Homo sapiens: one gene and its partners. The protein of the gene in region 1 interacts with the protein of each later gene in a biochemical or structural test. Each region holds a gene or a part of one and is shown in the gene's direction. Other genes may lie near its edges.

What was found.
Region 2: the proteins of PLXNA1 (region 1) and NRP1 interact in a test that uses a peptide from one of them, tested with the Homo sapiens proteins (one study listed by BioGRID).
Region 3: the proteins of PLXNA1 (region 1) and RHOD form a complex in vitro, tested with the Homo sapiens proteins (one study listed by BioGRID).

The regions. Positions count from the first base shown.
Region 1 is NC_000003.12:127,013,956-127,021,585, forward strand, and holds part of PLXNA1 (plexin-A1 precursor), read left to right. Parts: intron 1-64; coding exon 65-161; intron 162-226; coding exon 227-420; intron 421-522; coding exon 523-674; intron 675-755; coding exon 756-876; intron 877-1,228; coding exon 1,229-1,365; intron 1,366-2,561; coding exon 2,562-2,729; intron 2,730-2,988; coding exon 2,989-3,082; intron 3,083-3,469; coding exon 3,470-3,709; intron 3,710-3,793; coding exon 3,794-3,937; intron 3,938-4,338; coding exon 4,339-4,573; intron 4,574-6,246; coding exon 6,247-6,389; intron 6,390-7,630. UniProt on the Homo sapiens protein: Coreceptor for SEMA3A, SEMA3C, SEMA3F and SEMA6D. Necessary for signaling by class 3 semaphorins and subsequent remodeling of the cytoskeleton. Plays a role in axon guidance, invasive growth and cell migration.
Region 2 is NC_000010.11:33,212,359-33,219,988, reverse strand, and holds part of NRP1 (neuropilin-1 isoform a precursor), read left to right. Parts: intron 1-6,167; exon of another isoform or gene 6,168-6,271; coding exon 6,272-6,603; exon of another isoform or gene 6,604-6,751; intron 6,752-7,630. UniProt on the Homo sapiens protein: Cell-surface receptor involved in the development of the cardiovascular system, in angiogenesis, in the formation of certain neuronal circuits and in organogenesis outside the nervous system. Mediates the chemorepulsant activity of semaphorins.
Region 3 is NC_000011.10:67,066,847-67,073,147, forward strand, and holds the end of RHOD (rho-related GTP-binding protein RhoD), read left to right. Parts: coding exon 1-1; intron 2-3,578; coding exon 3,579-3,713; intron 3,714-4,588; coding exon 4,589-4,756; 3' UTR 4,757-5,171; downstream 5,172-6,301. UniProt on the Homo sapiens protein: Involved in endosome dynamics. May coordinate membrane transport with the function of the cytoskeleton. Involved in the internalization and trafficking of activated tyrosine kinase receptors such as PDGFRB.

The DNA.
Region 1 (7,630 bases):
CGTGAGGCTTGGGAGGCCTGGAGGCCGCTTAGCTGGGAAGCCTGACGGTGCCATCACCTAACAGTACTCCTACGAGGGGAACGATGTCAGCGACCTGCCAGTGAACCTGTCAGTCGTGTGGAACGGCAACTTTGTCATTGACAACCCACAGAACATCCAGGGTGAGTGGGCGCCCCGGCGGGGTGGGCAGTGGGCGGGCCCGAGCTGACCGCACCCCTCCCCACAGCGCACCTCTACAAGTGCCCGGCCCTGCGCGAGAGCTGCGGCCTCTGCCTCAAGGCCGACCCGCGCTTCGAGTGCGGATGGTGCGTGGCCGAGCGCCGCTGCTCCCTGCGACACCACTGCGCTGCCGACACACCTGCATCGTGGATGCACGCGCGTCACGGCAGCAGTCGCTGCACCGACCCCAAGATCCTCAAGGTAGGGCCCCCAGCCCTGCCCCCACACCCCATGCCCCGCCCTGCACCACCGCACACCCTACGCCCTGTGGGATGCCTGTACCCCAGCCTCTGCCTCCCTCAGCTGTCCCCCGAGACGGGCCCGAGGCAGGGCGGCACGCGGCTCACTATCACAGGCGAGAACCTGGGCCTGCGATTCGAAGACGTGCGTCTGGGCGTGCGCGTGGGCAAGGTGCTGTGCAGCCCTGTGGAGAGCGAGTACATCAGTGCGGAGCAGTGAGTGCAGCCCTGGGTGTGTGCGGGGCGGGACGGGACGGGGCGGGGCTCCTGCAGCCCCTGAGGCCCGCCTGCCCACAGGATCGTCTGTGAGATCGGGGACGCCAGCTCCGTGCGTGCCCATGACGCCCTGGTGGAGGTGTGTGTGCGGGACTGCTCACCACACTACCGCGCCCTGTCACCCAAGCGCTTCACCTTCGTGGTGAGTCTGCTGCCCTCCCTCTCTCCCTATTCTCTGCTGCTCTGAGAGGGTGCCGCTCAGGGCTTCTGTGCCTCTTCAGGGCCCCTTGTCTGGCCATGCTCTGCCACTGCTTTTCCACGGCCTGGGTGCTGCCCCTCCCCTCCTGTGCCTAGGCCAGCTCCAGGGCTCCCTGGCTCACCTTGGGCTGTGCCTGAGAAACCTGGAAGTACTGGCTCTGAAGTGCAGCTCCCGGGCATGCGGGCTCCTAGTCTGGGGAACTGTCTGTGGGGGTAAGCAGGCCAAGTGGGGCCTGTCCCCATGTGGCCCGAGGGGGACTTTCCTGAGAGTTTCAGCAAGTTCCCTCTTCCTGCAGACACCAACCTTCTACCGTGTGAGCCCCTCCCGTGGGCCTCTGTCAGGGGGCACCTGGATTGGCATCGAGGGAAGCCACCTGAACGCAGGCAGTGATGTGGCTGTGTCGGTCGGTGGCCGGCCCTGCTCCTTCTCCTGGTACGGGGTGCAGGTGGGGGTGGGGGCCTGGCTGCCCCTCCTCCTGTTTCAGATGGTTGCATGCCCCTTCTTGTTGCCTGGGCAACGGGGCTATGGAGAGCCTGGCTGGGGTGATCACTGTGAAACCCAGAGGCGGAGGTTACCATGGAAACAGGCTACCTCCAGAGTGGTAGGACTGGGCGGTGATGGGCGTGGGGCCTGCCTTTGTGGGGCGGGGCAACTTGGCTGCCTCTGCCCTGGTTCTTCCCTGTGGGGAAGGGGGGAATCCCTTGGGTACAAAATAAGAAGTATTTTTTAAAAATTTTTAAGAGAGAAAACAGAAATCTTAACAAAAGCCCTGAGGCTTGAAGTGGATAATTTTAGATTAGGGATGATAATGGAATGTCCCTTTAAATATTTTCCTATGGTAATTACCCGTTATCAGACTAATCATTGGTGTCTGCAGCTGAGGGGGCCTGGTGGCTGTGGGGCTCCTGGCAGTGGTGGAAGAACTGAGGGTCCGGACCCAGGTGTGGGCTATGCCTGGCTGCCTGCCCAGTGGGGTGTCCCCGTGACCCCCACCCAGGCCAGCTCATCTAGTCTCCTCACAGCCCCCTGGGATGCGGGGATAGGGCGAGGTATTCCCACTGGGACAGGTGCCGAGAGGGAAGGTGTCTGCCTGGCCCAGGGTAGTAGGAGTGGGTGCTGGGCTCCCAGCACTCGGAGCCCCGGCTGAGTGAGGCTGGCCCTGAGACAGGCAGGGAAGGTCGCGCCAGGGCTTAGTCTCGCCAGCCCTCCCCAGGGACAGAGGGAGGGCAGCATGAGCCTACCTCCCAGCCTGGCGTGCGTGGGACGGGCCTGCTGCCTACTGCCTCTGGGGAGGCAGAGGCCTGGTGGGTGTGGAGCCCTGGCCAGGGTCACCAGGAGTGGGTGTGGGCGACAGGGAGGCTGTGATGAAAGCAGACCTGGAGAGGCGGCAGGCCGGGTCCCAAATGCCAGGCTGGGCAACAGTGGGGGCCTGAAGGGGCTGGGAGCCAGGGCGAGGGTAGGACAGACATGCACAGCCCTGGGAGGGAAAGTAGCGGTGATAGTATGCAGCCACCCAAGGCAGTACCTGTGACAGATGGCGCTGTTCCCACCGTCCCTCAATGCATCTGCATTCCACCTGCCTGGGTTCCACCCGTGTGCTCCTCACTGTCCCACTCGGGCACCTCCAGGAGGAACTCCCGTGAGATCCGGTGCCTGACACCCCCCGGGCAGAGCCCTGGCAGCGCTCCCATCATCATCAACATCAACCGCGCCCAGCTCACCAACCCTGAGGTGAAGTACAACTACACCGAGGACCCCACCATCCTGAGGATCGACCCCGAGTGGAGCATCAACAGGTGGGGCCCAGCAACACCCATTCCCTATCCCCAGCTATTGAGAGCAGCGCTGAGCCAGGAGCTCTTCCACTGGGCACTTGGCGGTGGCCCTCCTGCATGCCGGGTACTATCCTGCCGGGAAGCACCCCTTGCCAAGAGCTTTTACCTGTTTCCTGTCTTTGGGGAAGGCAGGCTTTGCCTGGCTGAGCTGTGGCCCACGTTTCCAGCTCACTGGGCCCCAGCATCATTTGGTGACCCCCCCACCCCTGTCCTGTTCCAGCGGTGGGACCCTCCTGACGGTCACAGGCACCAACCTGGCCACTGTCCGTGAACCCCGAATCCGGGCCAAGTATGGAGGCATTGAGAGGGAGAACGTGAGTCCCTGCCCTCAGCTGCCCACCTCGGTCCAGGCCTTCACCTGGGATGGGGCTCCTGCTAGGAATACCCGTGTCCCTGCCCCTGCCCCTACCCCTGCCCCTTCCCAGCTTATGCCAACCTTGGCTGTGCCTGGAGACCCCTGGGGAGGCACCTGTCCTGCCTGGCGGGTAGAAGGTCTGGCTCTGGGTTGCTGGCTGCACACACCTCTCCTTCAGGCCACATGTCCCTGGTCCACGTCGGGTGGGTGGCCCAGGACCAGCCCTGCTAGTGCCTGGCATCATCTGTGCAGGGAGCAGGCAGCCCCCAGGCCAGGGGCTCTGTCACTGGGAGCTGCCGGGCCACTCGCGGAGGTCCCGCCCAGCATCCCCACCCTGTGTCTCCAGGGCTGCCTGGTGTACAATGACACCACCATGGTATGCCGCGCCCCGTCTGTGGCCAACCCTGTGCGCAGCCCACCAGAGCTGGGGGAGCGGCCGGATGAGCTGGGCTTCGTCATGGACAACGTGCGCTCCCTGCTTGTGCTCAACTCCACCTCCTTCCTCTACTACCCTGACCCCGTACTGGAGCCACTCAGCCCCACTGGCCTGCTGGAGCTGAAGCCCAGCTCCCCACTCATCCTCAAGGTGGGTCACCATTGCCCGTAGGCTGGGCCAAGCCAGGGAAGAGGCCCCTCGTCCTGGGCTCTGGCTCACCCCCATCTCCTACAGGGCCGGAACCTCTTGCCACCTGCACCCGGCAACTCCCGACTCAACTACACGGTGCTCATCGGCTCCACACCCTGTACCCTCACCGTGTCGGAGACGCAACTGCTGTGCGAGGCGCCCAACCTCACTGGGCAGCACAAGGTCACGGTGCGTCTGTCCACCGGGGGTGCAGAGCTGGGAGAGCCATGCCCCACCTGTGGACCCTGCCCCACTAGCACAGCCCCAGCTCTGACCTTGCCCGAGACTCACCCCTAGCTCAGAGGGCGCCCGGCTCCAGTGCAGGCCCTGCCGTAGCCTTCAGCCTGCCACCTCCTTGAGCCCCCCGAGACTGCCTACCCACCCTGAGCCCTTGCCATGCCAGTGGTGCCCTGGCTGGCCAGGCGCCTGCCCTGGGTCCCAGTGTCTCCACCCTGGTGACCACTCTGTGCCCCTGTCGGTGGGACCTTTCCCACAGGCAGGTGTTGGGGGTGGGTCTTGCCCATCGGGAGGGGCTCCCAAGCTTTGTGGAAAGCATGGGAAGCTCCTGAGTGGCCTCCACCCACTGGCAGGTGCGGGCAGGTGGCTTCGAGTTCTCGCCAGGGACACTGCAGGTGTACTCGGACAGCCTGCTGACGCTGCCTGCCATTGTGGGCATTGGCGGAGGCGGGGGTCTCCTGCTGCTGGTCATCGTGGCTGTGCTCATCGCCTACAAGCGCAAGTCACGAGATGCTGACCGCACACTCAAGCGGCTGCAGCTCCAGATGGACAACCTGGAGTCCCGCGTGGCCCTCGAATGCAAGGAAGGTCTGTTGGGGCCAGGGCTCACTGGGGCAACTGCCACCTCCGAGCCAGGCCCTGGCCTGTCCCCACACCTACTTCCCACCGCCGCCCCCACCCTGCTTCAGCTCAGTTTACAATGTTCCTGATAGCCTTGCTGTGCCAGAGCTGGTCCCAGGGCAGTGGGCGGGTGCCTGACCAGGGCCTGGCCCTGCAGCAGGTACCACCTCCTTGGGGTGCTGCTTGCGACACAGAACCCAAAGCCAGACTGTTTGCATTTGTATCCCAGCTGGGCTATAAGGCTGAAGGTGGCTACTTACCCTTCTGTGGCTCAGTCTTGTCGTCTCTAGAGTGGGCACAATGACAGTGCCTACTTTCCCTGGGTGCTGGGAGTCGTGGTGGGTTGGCTGGTGCCAGCGGAGCAGCAGAGAGGGGTGCTTCCACCATGCAGCAATGGGGAGCCCTTGCGCTTTGGCAGTCCCTGGGCACATAGAGATCTTGGCCTGAGCTGACCTTTGTCCTTGAGATGTCTATAGGGGGAGTCATGCCACACCATGCTCCTGATCAGGGCAGGTGTGAGTGGCAGAAATCTGTTCCATGCCGGGCGAGACTTTGAGCGTTTGCAGATAGTAACTCACACATGTTCAGGGCTCTAGGGGGCAGATACTAGGAGTGTTCCTGCTGCAGTGTAGGACCTTAGCCATGTGGTCCAGCATGGGGTTGTCATGAATTCCACTGGGACTCAACTGGGATGGGGTGTTTTGTTTGCACAGGACTCAGCCAGTCTTAAAATGCAAAGTTCTGCATCCTGGGAGCCCTCTCAGTCCCAGACAAACCTAAGTGGCCCTGTGGTGGGCTGAGGGTCACCCTACCTCTTGGGCAGCCCTGGTGGGACTGGAGGCAGGTGTGTGTTGGGGCCAGGTGGGAGGCAGGTGGCCTGGACCTCCCTTGTGCTCCCGCCTGCTGAGGCTGGCTGTCTGGCGAGGCTGGCGTGTGTGGATGCAGTGGCTGGTGGCTGCTCCAGGCCAGCCAGGTGCAGATAACTAGACGCCTGGCAGCGATGCCCAGGAGACGAAGACTCCAGCTCTTAATTAAACCTGTCAGATGTCCCCCAGAGCCTGCCTGGCACTCCTTTGGCTTCTGATCAGATAGCCTGATCCTCGGGCTGCCACAGGACTGACACCTCACAGCTCTGGAATGTTCTGTCAGGGCCTGCCTGCCTTTGTTCCTGACAGAGGCAGAGCTGGCCCTGAGCAGGGTGGGCCATGTTGAGGGTGCACCAGGCCCGAGATGTGCATGCAATGGTGTGGGGGCTTGGGGACAGCCTGCAGCCCTGGGACCTCACCCCTGGCCGCACTCCACCACCTCACAGCGGGTGGAAGGAGCCCGAACTCCAAAGCTGCTCTACGCTTAACTGCCAGTGTCTGAGATGCAGGAGGCCCTGCCCAGCCTGCCCCTGGTGCTGATGCTTTCTCTGCCCTTGTCTTGCTTGATCCTGTGGGAACCTTGCAGAGGAGAGTTACTATCCCTGTGCTAGGGCTGTAGTAGCTGGGGGACGAAGAGGCACAGTAGTTTCCTTAAGATCACGAAACCAGTAAGTGTCAGAGCCAGGATTTGATGTAGGCCCCAAGAGTGGGAGGGTTGGGGCATGGAGCGGGGCCACCAGGGCATGCTGCCCCTGACGCCGCATCTGGCCACAGCCTTTGCAGAGCTGCAGACAGACATCCACGAGCTGACCAATGACCTGGACGGTGCCGGCATCCCCTTCCTTGACTACCGGACATATGCCATGCGGGTGCTCTTTCCTGGGATCGAGGACCACCCTGTGCTCAAGGAGATGGAGGTAGGACCACTGGCTCCGGGGGGTCACAGGAACTCAGAGGCAGCTGCTATCTTCTGCCTTTGAGGCTCCTTGGGTGCTGATGGATGGTATGGGGCAGCCTGTGTGGCCTGGGGGAGGGTCCAGGCCTGCAGGGCTCTGGGCTCAGCCAAGTGGGGAGCAGGTGCTGGGAGGCAGAACCAAGACCAGGCAAGCACAGTGGAGCCCTGAGCCCTGGGGTTGGGGCAGGGGAATGGCCAGCACGGCTCTGCTCCATAAAGTACCTCCAGAGGGCAGGAGGAGGCTCTGGCCCCAGGGCCTCCGTGGGATGCCAGGCCTCATCCCAGCAAACCACTTGTCAGCCTGGGCTTCTGGCACCTCCCCGGTGGCTGCCCCTTGGGCCCTGCCTCTGTTGGGGGTCCCGCCTGCGGCTCCACTGGCCTGGTCTCCTGGGTGGCTCTGGATGCGAAGCCTCGCTGGGCAGGGGCCGTGTGCTGGGAGGTGCGGGTGCCTGATGAAGTCTGCTATGGCGGTTTGGGAGGGGAGCATGTGGCTGGCATAGCACCAGGGTCTCAGAGAGTAGGGCTTTGCCCCGTAGACCTTGGCAGCGAGCCTGGCGAGGGAAAAGAGGGCTGGCTCCCACACCCCTAAAAGGCCCCCAGCGGCAGGCAGGCTAGGAGCCAGTCCTTGGCGAGCCACGGCCAGGGGCTCGGCAGGTTAGCTCAGTCACACTCTCCAGCTGAGGGCACCCCCCAACCGTGTGCCTTGGATGTTGGGGAGCCCATGTCCCTTGTGGTGACTCTGTTGGTGGGAAGTCCCTTTTGAGCTGATACTGAGCAGACCTTCCCGCCTTGGGCCCTGGGCTGCCTGTGGCTGAGTGCTGCCATCCTGTTCCTGGGCTTGCTGCCACACGGGGCTACACAGCCTCCCCAGGTTGTATCTCTCTTTCAGTGCCTCCATTTGCTGTGTCTGTCACACTGTCTCTCTCAGCTGTGACTGTGTATGTTCTGCCTGGGCCATTACCTGTCTGCCTGATACCTGTTGGCCTTGGCTGGGAGCCTGGTATCACTGGTGGCCTCTGGGCTCTGCCTAATAGGGAACATATTGCCCTGATAAACCTTAGTATGAACAAGAGAGAGAGAGTAGGGACCCTGGAGCCAGCTATGCCTCTACTCCACTCCTTTTTCCTACCTGCAGTGTGGCCCTAATCAAACCTCTTCCTGTCTCCAACCTTGTGTCCTCATCCATGAGATGCAGAGACTGGT
Region 2 (7,630 bases), on another chromosome or scaffold:
CTTGGCTTTATTTTTGATCAGCAGTTAGATGACAGAAAGTTCTAGGTCATTTTCAGAGCATTACAGATTTGTGCTGTTATTCATAAATTTGTAGAAACAAGGCCATTTGAGGTTTGGGTGGAAATTTCTGGCCCATTTCTTCAACCTTATCTCATGTCATTGTATTTAAAAAAAATGAGGTAAACTTCATAAAGACTCCAAACATGTTAGTCAAAATTCTGAATTTCCAGGCTCTTAGAGATTTATGTCACATCCTTTTAGTTGAATACAATTTTTTTTATACCTAAACTGTCCTTTTTAATTTTCACAAGGATTTCCCTGAGAGGTGATGCTAGGAATGTGAGCAAAGAAGGTAAATAATTTGTTCAATTTTTAAAAATAGTTAAATGATCTAGTTATGTAAACTTAGATGTCTAAAATAGCATATCCTAATATTTTCATACATAATTAAGTAGCTATTTTTCAAATAAGGTGCTTCCTTTCAGTTCCTAGTGCTAGTCTCTTAATCATGGTCTCCACTATACTTTTAAATATTTTCTCTCTAGTAAAATGTCTCTAGTCTCCAAATAATTGCCAGAAGCAGGTTTTTGGAGAGGCTAACACGTTACGATAGTCACATGGACAGAAGGCAGGCAGACATATCCAGGCTTGACTGTGGACTGTCCACTTAGTGTATGCATGACGGACCATGGATAAGACATTGAGACTCACTCTGATCTCCGTTTTCTGGTCTGTGAGGATCACCTTAATGCAACTATAATGAGGAGTCAATGAGAGGAAATTTGGAACACCCCTGGCTTAAACTAAGTGCTCACTAAATGGTACCCGTTAGACTAAAATAGTACATGGCACTCAATATATTGAACCTAGCATATGCCCCAGCAAGCAGAGCCTCTAATAAGACAGTAATTTCAAGTTTTTCTTCTTGATTATCAGAAGCAGATAATTTTCATTTTCTTGAAATGAAAATCAAAGGTCCCCTTGAGTAGAGATTAATGAAAGGAGGACTACAGTATTCCTGCTGGACTAGATGGTCCAGGAGAGCAGGGGACCTGTTTGCCTCATTTTCTGTTGTGTCCTGTATGCCTGGAACATAACAAATGCTTGGTGGTTACTTTTGAATGAAGGAAGTGCAGTTTTATGCACGCCTTCTGAGAAACAAGCGGCTGGACCTCAAATTTTCACCCTGCTGAGTAGTCACAATTCAATCTGGATTTTGTTTAAGCCTACCTAATGAAAGGTTACTGCTTGAACACATCACTTGGCTTCCAAAGCCACTAAAGCCCCAAGTTTTACCCTAATTTTTTGATTCAGAAATTATTTTTTAGAAATATAGTAATCCTGGACTGGGCGCAGTGGCTCACTCCTGTAATCCCAGCACTTTGGGAGGCCGAGGCAGGTGGATCACGAGGTCAGGAGATTGAGACCATCCTGGCTAACACAGTGAAACCCCATCTCTACTAAAAATACAAAAAATTACCCAGGTGTGGTGGCATGCACTTGTAGTCCCAGCTACTCAGAAGGCTGAGGCAGGAGAATGGCGTGAACCCAGGAGGCAGAGCTTGCAGTGAGCCGAGATTGTGCCACTGGCCACTGCACTCCAGCCTGGGCAACAGAGCAAGATTCCATCTCAAAAAAAAAAAAAAGAAAGAAAAAAGAAATATAGTAATCCTGGAAAATTCAGAGTTTGTCACCATATAGAGATATAAAGAAAATAAGATTGGAACAAACCATTCTGCTTTATAGGTGATTGATGAAGGGCATTTTCATTATTTTGACAAAGTAGGCTTCATCATTTTGGCAGAGATGGAAATCACGTTGGGCAATGGCTGCTTAACACACTCTGAACTCTGCTATCTTCTGTTATTAACCAGAAGTCTGTTACCCAGCGCTTCAACACATATTCATGTGCTCCTAAGTCAATCAGAATTCACAGTGATGATCTCAGACACCATAATATCCAGAGGTACTTTCTGAGTCATCAAGGAGAGATTAAATTATGCTCATTCAGGGTCTCCCATCGAATGCAGTTATTACTTTCTCATTCGTTGGAAATTGGTTAACTGGATATTTGATTTACCAGTATACCTCAGTTTTTCCATTAAAGCTGAGTACAGAGATTTACTGTAAAATAATATCACTGAAAATAACGACCTCAATCCTCCATTACAAAACTCATTTCTCCCTTCCATCCTGAAGTGGTCTTAAGCTTTCCAAACAAGGCTGCCAAGTGAAATACAAAATGTCCAGTTAAATTTGACGCAGACAAACAAGACATAATTTTTCAGAATAAGTATGTCCCATGCAATATTTGAGACATATGTGTACTAAAAAATTATTCATTATTTCTCTGAATTCTAATTTCACTGGGCATCTTGTTTCTTGTTTTGTTGTTTATTTGCTAAATCTGGCAACACTATTTCCAAAGGGTTTGACCTGCACCGGGCTGACCTGTACCAGCCTGCTATGAAGGGACAGAGTTAAACGCTAGCATCTCATTCAAACCTTGAATTAATTGTTAATGTAATTTTTCTGCAAATTATTGTTAAAAGTGAGTCACATAGTTTTCAGTCAAAGGTAAATCAAGTTGCCTCTTCATTTTTTTTTTTTTAATGAGGCAGCTATATGGAAGGAATAACAGTCTCACTTTGCACCATGGATATGTTGGCTAAATGGGGACAGGGCATCACTAAGTCTATGAATACAGAAACTGTGCCCCAGCCGAGTCTGCATTAGAGAAAGGGCATTAATCTGGTGACGGTTCTGCTCTCCTTACAGTATTCAAGTTAATTATGTTTGCCTCCAAATGGTAACATCTGGTCCCCATTACCAGCTAAACATTGCCTTTCTAAAAGCTTGTTTGGAATCAGGCAGGTATGAACACCGTGGCCAAAAAATGGCACTCTATTTTTAACACTACAGTTTCATAGTCCCTTAGTAAAATTGTTTTTGTAAATCTTTTTTTAATCCCGACTGAGTATATTCTTGGTTTCCAGATCCCAGCCTGGAGCAAATACTGTGGTTAAGTTACAGGAAAGGGCAATTGAGAAAATGACAGCTGCCTTTCATTGTATTAAGTTGATTCATTCAACAAATATTTGTTGAGCAAATACTATGTATAAAACAGGGCATGAAGAGTCATATAAAACAGAAAAATATGACTTAGTTCGTGTCCTCAAAGAAGTTAAAATCTGGGGAGGCAGAAAGCAGCATTCCAAAGAACTAAATGTGCTCATCAGCATTTGAGGGCTGGATATGGTGGCTCAAGCCTGTGACCCCAGCACTTTGGGAGGCCAAAATGGTAAGATCTCTTGACCCCAGTAGTTTGAGAGCAGCCTGGGCAACATAGCGAGACCAAAAAAAAAAAAATTGCCAATCATGGTAGCATCCACATGTAGTCCTAGCTACTCAGGAGACTGAGGTGGGAGGATTGCTTGAGGCCAAGAGTTCAAGGCTGCAGTGAGCCATGATCACACCACTCCACTCCAGCCTGGGTGACAGAGTGAGACCCTGTCTCTAAAAATAAAAATTAAAAAAAAGGCCGGGGTGTAGAGGGGCCAGGCGCCGTGGCTCACACCTGTAATCCCAGCACTTTGGGAGGCCGAGGCAGGCATCACGAGGTCAGGAGATCGAGACCATCCTGGCTAACACTGTGAAACCCCTCTCTACTAAAAATACAAAAAATAAGCCGGGCGTGGTGGCAGGCGCCTGGAGTCCTAGCTACTCGGGAGGCTGAGGCAGGAGAATGGCGTGAACCCGGGAGGTGGAGCTTGCAGTGAGCCAAGATCGCCCCACTGCACTCCAGCCTGGGAGACAGAGCGAGACTCCTTCTCAAAAAAAAAAAAAAAGAAAGAAAGAAAGAAGGGAAATGCAGATAAAATGGTGTGAAGAGGCCCAGAAATGGAAAACTGTGTCCAGTTGCAGAGAACAGAAAAACTGAGTAAACGATGTGGCATTTGAAAACAGGTCAGGATTTTAAGCAGTTCAGATAATGGAAAAGGGTAACATGACAGGGAATTCCTTGTGGAGGGAACAGAAAGAAAGCTCCCAAACTCCCAGAAGTAAGGAAGTTCTTCATGCCAATTGGCACTGGTTAAAGGAGTGAATGGGGAGAGGCCTTGCAAGGACATGACATGGAAGGCCTGCATGCCTGACTGAAAATGACGTGCGTAATTTCTAGACAAGAAGGCACTGAATGTCTGAGTAAAGAAACGACATGATCTGGACCATAGAACTCATGTGGAAAGTATCTGAGTAATGAATTCTTAAGGTTCAGCTGATAATGTGGACTTAGTTTAATTGCATTAGATGTTTGCCTCTCACTTAGGGGTAGTTATATTTTTAGGCTAAATTTTTATTATATAACGCAGAATTGAGTTGCTTCAAAGAAAAATAGGTTATCATTCTTGCACATGTTCTTGATTAGGATGTACAGTTTCTAAAGGAAAATACTTGAAGTGTTGGACATTTTGTCATTAAGCCAGCGTTGAATTCATCAACAACTGATACTCTCCTTGTGCTCAGAAGCTCCTTGGGCTGCTTTAGAAGACATAAAAAGGTCTATGATGCTGTTCATTGCCTTTGAAGATCTTATAATCTAGCTGTGGGTACATGACTAACAATCTTAAAGCCTTAGAGAGCAGTGGAATGCTGAGCTCTGTGCTACTTACATCATATTTCTGAGAAGGGAGAGCTCAGAATAAAAGCTAGAGTAGCTTGAAAAGTTCTCTTCATGAGTCTTAAGCTGGGTTTTGAGCAAAGGCAATGATGAGGATGACGTCTAGACTGTATGAGAAGAGAATTGCTTAACTGAGATGTATTGTCAGTAATAGAAAATCAAATTAGGCAAATGGGATGAAGTCAAAATGAGGGTCTTGAATGCCAGATCGAGTTTTGATATCTTCCTATCAATAATGGAAAACCATGGTACATTTTCAAAAGATATCTCTTTTCTATTGTCGGGGTAAAATATACATAACATAAAATTTACCGCTTTAACAATTTTCAACCACTTTTAACCATTTTAATTTTATCATTGTACATTTTTAAGTGTACAATTCTGTCGCATTAAGTACAGTCACATTGCTGTGCAAGCATCACCACTATTTCCAGAATTTTATAATTGTCTCAGACTGAAACTCTGCACCCATGAAACACTAACTCTCCCAATCTCCATTTCCCCCAAGCCCTGGCAACCACCATTTTGCTTTCTGTCTCTACGAATCTGACTGATCTAGTGATAGGCTACTCCTATCCATGGAATCAGACCATATTTGTCCTTTTTTTGTTGGGCTTCTTTCACTTAGCAGTGGAGATTTTTGAGGATGAGAATGACATGCTTAAAACAACATTTTCTGAAAATTTAAGTAGCAGTTGGTGTAGTGGAGATTCAAAGTGGGGTCTGGGAGGCCAACCAAGAGCTGATGTAGCACCCTGGCCAGAGCGCTCGGATCAGGATAAATCCAGAAGAAAGGAAGGTAGCAACAAGAGTTCTGTTGCTTTCTTGTACTTAATAAAAACAACAGGATTTGGCAGCAAAACGGAAATGACGAGATGACTAGGCAGGAAGTGGATGATTGGTGATGCCACCAATTAAAAGACAGGGTTCAGTGAAAAGATGCAGTATCCAGGGGAAAGGACTGTCTTAGTCTGCTTGTGGTACATTTGAGATGACAGTGAGACATTCATGTGGAAAGTCCCCAATGCAATTAGAAATAGGGGTGGGGAGAACAGTTGTGGGGGATCATGGTCACTATTCTCCCACACTCAATTCAAATGCCACCTCCCCTGGGAGGTCCTCTATTACCTCTGCAGGCTGAGTATGCATTCGTTCTCTTTACCTCTGCATCACTGTCTCTTTACCTTTGTTTTAGCAACCTTCCTGCTATCGGATTGACTTCTATGCATATCTCCAATCCATCATAAACTATGAACTTCTCTTAAGCAGGGCCAGTACTTGATCCAGGGATGAATTCTGGATACCAAAGAGACTGAAATATGAATGTTAAACTTAGAAGATGTCAAAGCGGGGGAAATGTATGTTCTTATTGAAGATTTGCCTTACTGGGATGTGAGTTTAGAGACGGGAATTCTGACAGAGCAGGAGGAAGGTTTGAGGGAGGAAAGATTTACTGTAAAATAATCCAGAGACTGAAAATTGTATATGATTGGGTACAAAATCATGTCTTTATTCCATATGTTGTATTTTATTTCTTAGCATGGAGTCGCCCAGGAAATCATTTTACATTATCTGTTTCATTTCACTTCCCAGATTATCCTTGCTCTGGAATGTTGGGTATGGTGTCTGGACTTATTTCTGACTCCCAGATCACATCATCCAACCAAGGGGACAGAAACTGGATGCCTGAAAACATCCGCCTGGTAACCAGTCGCTCTGGCTGGGCACTTCCACCCGCACCTCATTCCTACATCAATGAGTGGCTCCAAATAGACCTGGGGGAGGAGAAGATCGTGAGGGGCATCATCATTCAGGGTGGGAAGCACCGAGAGAACAAGGTGTTCATGAGGAAGTTCAAGATCGGGTACAGCAACAACGGCTCGGACTGGAAGATGATCATGGATGACAGCAAACGCAAGGCGAAGGTGAGGGCTGGGGACTGGGAGGAGGTCATCCCTTATGTCCTTGACTTCAATCAAGGGCCTCTGGCATTCTCCCGAGGAAGGGCTTCTTATTTCCTTCCAGCCATGACATTAGAGGAGGTGTGTGATGGGGTCAGTAAGACCCTTGATTCTAGGAAGACAGGAATATGGCATGAAAAGTGATGTCTGAGATAACATGCAAAAGAATTGCATTGCTGGTCCCATTCCCTGGCTGTAGGGATGGACAGACAGCTCAACATGCAGACAGGAGACGGGGAAGCCCAAGGCTGACAGCAGCCATCCAGCCAGCGCTCAGAACCCCTTGCAGATACCACTCAGTCGTTTGGGTCTGCCCTCCCCCCATCTCAAACCTACCCCTAGTTTAAGTGCTTTGTTTCTTTTATAAATTTTTATTGTGGGCCAGGCTCAGTGGCTCATGCCTGTAATCCCAGCACTTTGGGATGCCGAGTCGGGCGGATTGTCTGAGCTCAGGAGTTCGAGACCAGACTGGACAGCACGGTGAAACCCCATCTCTACTAAAATACAAAAAATTAACAGGGTGTGGCAGCGTGTGCCTGTAGTCCTAGCTATTCTGGAGGCTGAAGCAGGAGAATTGCTTAAACCCGGGAGGCAGAGGTTGCAGTGAGCTGAGATTGCACCACTGCTCTCTAGCCTGGGTGACAGAGTGAGATTCCGTCTCAAAAAAAAAAAATTAATTGTGATAAAATACATATAATATACAATTTCCCATCTTAACCTTTTTAGTGTGCAGTTCAACAGTGTTAAGTATGTGTATATTGTGCAACCAATCTCTAGAACTTTCTCATCTTGCAAAACTGAAACTCTACACCCATTAAGCAACAACTCCCAGTCCCCCTGCCCCCAGCCTCTGGTGACCACCTCCACTTTCTGTCTGTGTGAATTCAACCATTTTAGGGACCTCATACTGTATTTGTCTTTTTGTGATTGGCTTATGTCACTTAGGATAATGTTTTCAAGGGCCATCAGTGTTATAGCATTGTGTCAGAAT
Region 3 (6,301 bases), on another chromosome or scaffold:
GGTAGGTACTGGGGGGCAGGGAGGCATAGCCCCCATAGCCAGGCCACTCCACTCTGCCACCCACCCTCGACCCAGCTGACTGTCAGAGCTTGGCAGGCCCAAAATGATATTGATTCCAGAGCTTTTGGTGTATATATGGGGAAACTGAGGCTCAGAGTGGGGCAGTGGCTTGCCCAGGGTTGCTGGCACAGGGATTTGGTGGCAGCGTCTGCCCTTCTGACTCCCAGTACAGTGCTCCTTGCCTACCCTATGCTGCAGACTCCGAACACTGTGGCTCTTCCCACGGCGGCTCTGCCTGAGGTTGCTGGGTGAGCCAGAGGCTGCTACATCTCCCCAGCCTGTGCCCGCCCAAGGTGCATGAACAGTCAAGTCAGAGTCCAGCAGCTCTGCGTGGCTGCTGGTTCTCAGAGGCTGCTCATGGGCATCAGGGATGTGGCCCCTTGAATTCCTCTGCTCCAGCTGCCTTTAGCCATGGCACAGCCCCTCACCCACTGCTGCCAGGGCCTCCGAGTTTCCGCAGGGTACAGCCCATGACAGTATTTGCAACAACAACAACAACGGTGACAATTTTAAGGACTGACCACGTGCCAGGCAGTGTTCTTGGTACTTGCATGTATTTACTCATTTACTCCCCCGGCCAACCTTATGGAGTATTATTATTCCCGGATCCAGTCACTCGTCCAAAGATACACATCTATTAAAGTGGTAACACTGGGATTTGAACCCAGGCAGGCTGCTCCGCCCATTCATTCAGAACGAATGATTGAGCACATTCGTTCTGGTGCTGTTCTGGGCATTGGGTACCAGGAGAGATGGTGGTGCCTGGGGCCAGGGTGCTAGCAGTGGGGGTGACGAGAAGGGGGCTGATTCTGAATCGGTCTAGAAGGCGGAGTTTGCTGATGATCAGAGTTTCTTGTTGGATTGGATGTGGGTGGGAGGGAGGAGTTTTTTTGTTTGTTTGTTTGTTTTTTGAAACGGAGTCTTGCTCTGTCACCCAGGCTGGAGTGCAGTGGCGCCATCTCGGCTCACTACAAGCTCTGCCTCCCAGGTTGATACCATTCTCCTGCCTCAGCCTCCTGAGTAGCTGGGACTACAGGCGCCCGCCACCACGCCCGGCTAATTTTTTGTATTTTTAGTAGAGACGGGGTTTCACCATGTTAGCCAGGATGGTCTTGATCTCCTGACCTCGTGATCCGCCCGCCTCGGCCTCCCAAAGTGCTGGGATTACAGGCGTGAGCCACCACGCCCAGCCTGGGAGGAGTTTTTACCAGAGCAGCTGGAAGGTGGAGTTGCCCTTGGCCAAGATGACAAGGAGCAAGCTGGGTTCGGGAGTGGGACATCCTAGTGGAGGTGTCCGGCAGGCAGTGCGATGCATGCGTCTGCAGTTCCTCCGAGCAGGCAGTCCAGCTGGGCAGCCTAAATGCAGCTGCACATTTAGAAGCTACGGGTGCAGTAAAGCCTGGGGGAGGCTGCCCAGGAAGGGAGAGCAGCTAGAGGAGAGGAAAGACCACAGGCTGAACCCCAGGGAGAGGAGGAGGAGGGCAAGGCCCCATAAGACCTAGGAGAGCCAGGAGAGTGGGGTCCTGGGGTGAAGTGCAGGCTCAGTCAGGTAGGAGGGAGTGATGCCCAGGGTCGGGGTTATCGAGGGATCAGTAGGAGCAGGGCTAAGGATTCTCTGATGGTGGCCGGGTGCGGTAGCTCACGCCTTGTAATCCCAGCACTTTGGGAGGCTGAGGAGGGTGGATTATTTGAGGAGTTTGAGACCAGCCTGACCAACATGGTGAAACCCCGTTGCTACTAAAAATACAAAAATTAGCCGGGCGTGGTGGCACATGCCTATAACCCAGCTACTTGGGAGGCTGAGGCAGGAGAATTGCTTGAACCCGGGAGGCGGAGGTTGCAGTGAGCCAAGATCGCACCACTGCACTCCAGTCTGGGCGACAGAGCGGGACTGTCTCAAAAAAGAGAGGATTCACTGCTGGGTTCAGTGGGAGCCACCAAGGAAACCTTTCTCATGGGCAGTTTCGGTGGATGCGGGGGTGTGGGGAATCTGCCAGGGACCCCACAAAGGCCCCATTTGCTTCCAGGAATGAGGTAGTTTGATGCCAATTTTTGTTTGTTTGTTTGTTTGTTTGTTTTGAGACAGAGTCTCACTCTGTCTCCCAGGCTGGAGTGCAGTGGTACAATCTGGGCTCACTGCAACCTCCACCTCCTGGGTTCAAGCGATTCTCCTGCCTCAGCCTCCCGAGTAGCTAGGATTGCAGGCTTGAGCCACCAAGCCCGGCTGATGCCAATTTTTATCAGGCAAGTTTCATGCCCAAACCAGCCGACTTCAGCCGACTTAGTGCTCCTGGAGATAGGAAGCCCCCTCCCGGGATCCCCGGCTCCCCAGCTGTAGTCCAGGCTGAAAGAACTCGGCCCTGGTGGCCTCACATTCTGCAGAGCAGCCCTCCCTCCACCAGGCAAGCAGTTGAGGCAGACAGCTGCTGCAACCATTTTGTGAGCAGATTTATTTATTTATTATTTTTTTGAGACGGAGTCTCACTCTGTAGCCCAGGCTGGAGTGCAGTGGCTCCATCTCAGCTCACTGCAACCTCCGCCTCCCAGGTTCAAGCGATTCTCCTGCCTCAGCCTCCAGAGTAGCTGGGACTACAGGTGCACGCCACCACGCCCAGCTAATTTTTGTATTTTTAGTAGAGACGGGGTTTCCCCTTGTTGGCCAGGCTGGTCTCGAACTCCTGACCTCAGGTGATCTGCCTGCCCTCAGCCTCCCAAAGTGCTGGGATTACAGGCGTGAGCCACCGAGCCCGGCCTGGATTGATTGATTTATTTTTATCTTTTTAATTGATTTATTTATTTATTTTGAGATGGAGTTTCACTCTGTCGCCCAGGCTGGAATGCAGTGGCGCGATCTCAGCTCCCTGCAACCTCCGCCTCCCAGGTTCATGCCATTCTCCTGCCTCAGCCTCCCGAGCAGCTGGGATTACAGGCACCCGCCATCATGCCCACCTAAATTTTGTATTTTTACTAGAGACAGGGTTTCACTGTTGGCCAGGCTGGTCTCAAACTCCTGACCTCAGGTGTTCCACCTGCCTCAGGCTCCCAAAGTGCTGGGATTACAGGCGTGAGCCACCACACCTGGCCCAGATTTGTTTTTAAAGGATCCCTTACTTCCTTATATGTTTTGCTCAGTTTGGTGGGTGTCCATGAGGGCCCTTACCCTGCAGAGAGGAAAGATTCTAGAACGGCAGGAGCAGGGTTCTGAGCCCCACCCCCAGGCTCAAATCCTGCCATTTCCAGCCAAGGCCAAGTTACATCGCCTTTCTGTGCCTCAGTTACCGCACCTGTACAGTGGGATTGGTTGTGAACTTGCTGCCACGGCCTCGGGGAATTAATGGGTCCATACGTGTAAATTCTTAGATGAGGTTCTGGTACCAAATAGTTTCTCCCTAGGTGCTGGCTTTGCTGATTATCCATATCAGAGCTCAGGCTGGGGAGCAAGAGAGTGGTCCACTGAGAGGGCCAGAACTCTCCAGGGCTCACACATGCCCCCCACATGCCCCCTCGCCCCCCTGCAGTGGTACCCAGAAGTGAATCATTTCTGCAAGAAGGTACCCATCATCGTCGTGGGCTGCAAGACTGACCTGCGCAAGGACAAATCACTGGTGAACAAGCTCCGAAGAAACGGATTGGAGCCTGTGACCTACCACAGGGTAGGAAACCCAGCCCGAGGTGGGAGTTGGGGAGGACTGAGTGAGGGGACCTCTGGATGCCTCTCAGTGGCACCAGGTGTCCAGAACGCTCAGGGTGTAGGTCAGAGCTGCGGTCGTCTTAGAGGCTGTCAGAGGTCAGAAACTTCCAGCACTTAGAAATGGTCCCTAGAATATTCTGGGAGCCTCCACAGGCAAAAGGGAGAACAAGGAAGTAGGCATATCAGAGTCAGTTCCACCACCAACCTGAGACCCAGAGAGGGGGCCCAGGCAGGCACCCACATATTCAGACCGTGGGTCCCTCTCTGCTACACGTCTGGGTTCATGGGAAGTTCATTTCTTGGTGCCTTGAGAGGCAAAGAGGCCCAGAACGGAGGTTAAAAACAACGAAGGCTGGCAGGGCGCAGGGGCTCACGCCTGTAATCCCAGCACTTGGGAGGCCGAGGTGGGTGGATCACTTGAAGTCAGGAGTTCGAGACCAGCCAGGGCAAAATAGCGAGACCCTGTCTCTACCAAAAATACAAAAAATTAGCCAAGTGGTGTGGTGGCGGGTGCCTGTAGTCCTAGCTACTCTGGAGGCAGAGGCAGGAGAATCACTTGAACCCGGTTGGAGGAGCTGCAGTGAGCTGAGATCGCACCACTGCACTCCAGCCTGGACGACAGAGCAAGACTCCGTCTCAAAAAAATAATAATAATAAAAATAAAGAAAAGAAAAACAAACATGATGAAGTGCATGAGGGCGCTTGGGCAAGCAGGGATACGGGAGCCATGGGTGCTCCGCAGACCCCACCTTCCACTCTTGTCCGGGAAAAGGAAGCGAGAACGTGAGGCCTGCCCAGTGCCCCCTTCACCGCAGCCCCATCCACCTCTCCCTCTAGGGCCAGGAGATGGCGAGGTCCGTGGGCGCGGTGGCCTACCTCGAGTGCTCGGCTCGGCTCCATGACAACGTCCACGCCGTCTTCCAGGAGGCCGCCGAGGTGGCCCTCAGCAGCCGCGGTCGCAACTTCTGGCGGCGGATTACCCAGGGCTTTTGCGTGGTGACCTGAGCGGCTCGGGGCGTCCCAGCGACGCGGGAAGGGGCAGGGCGCTGACCTGCTGCTGAGCTGGCTGGGCTGGACCCGGTCCCTAGGCTGTGACCGCCGAACTCCACTGCAACAGACGGGCGCCACCAAAGCCAGGCCCTGAGGCCTGGGAGTCCTGGACTGAGAAAGGGGGTTCCTGGGCCCACCTGCTCTGTGTAGGGCTCGTCCTGCGGTGCCCGAGAATCACTCGCTAACCCCTATGCCCGGTCCCGGACCGACATCCTGGAGCCGCCTGTGCAGCCTGATGCCCCCTCGTGGCTGCTCCCAGGGCTGCACCTGCCAGGACCTAATGTTCTTAGGTCCCTCTGGCCAGAACCCACACCCGGCCCCTTCCCACCTGTCATACTGGTAACTGTAACAAGAAAAACGACATCACTTATCATTGTGTCGTGCCTCTTTTTTCTGTTTTCTTTTTTTTGAGACGGAGTCTCGTTCTATCGCCCAGGCTGGAGTGCAGTGGCGCATTTCAGCTCACTGCAACCTGTGCCTCCTGGGTTCAAGCGATTCTCCTGTCTCAGCCTCCTGAGTAGCTGGGATTACAGGCGCGCGCCACCACACCCGGATAATTTTTGTATTTTCTTTAGCAGAGACGGGGTTTCACCATGTTGGTGAGGCTGGTCTCGAACTCCTGACCTCATGATCCACCCGCCTCGGCCTCCCAAAGTGCTGGGATTACAGCCATGAGCCACCACGCCCTGCCTATGCCTCTTGTTTCAAGGTGTCTTTACACACACGTTCCAAGGTAGGTAAAAGCCCACCCCATCTAGGCACTGGGATGGGACTGCTTGGATCCAAACCAGCTTTATTGCTTCCACGACCTTGGGCAAGTTCTTCTGGGCCTCAGCTTCCTCACCTGTGAAATGGATCACAGACTAAGCCATGGAACTTTCGGATGAGTAAGAGGGTCATGAGGACCAACACACGCAAAGAGCTTAGTAGGTGCCTAGCACGCAGTAAGTGCTCACAAAAGGTTCGGCCAGGGCCGAGCACAGTGACTCATGCCTGTAATCCCAGCACTTTGGGAGGCCGACGTGGGTGGATCACGAGGTCAGGAGTTTGAGACCAGCCTGACCAACATGGTGAAACCCCCATCTCTACTAAAAATACAAAAATTAGCCAGGCGTGGTGGCCCACACCTGTAATCCCAGCTACTCCAGAGGCTGAGGCAGGAGAATAGGTTGCAGTGAGCCGAGATCACACCACTGCACTCCAGCCCAGGCAACACAACGAGACTCCTTCTCAAAAAAAAAAAAGGTGTAGCCAGGTGCTGTGGCACACCTGTCCCAGCCACGATTGTACCAGTGCACTCCAGCTTGGGCTACAAAGCAGAAAAAAAAAAAAAAAAAGAAAAAAAAGTGGCCGGGTGTGTTGGCTTACGCCTGTAATTCCAACACTTTGGGAGGCTGAGGCGGATGGATCACCTGAGGTCAGGAGTTCGAGACCAGCCTAGTGGTCACATGGTGAAACCCGGTCTCTACTAAAAATATAAAAATTAGTTGGATGTGGTGG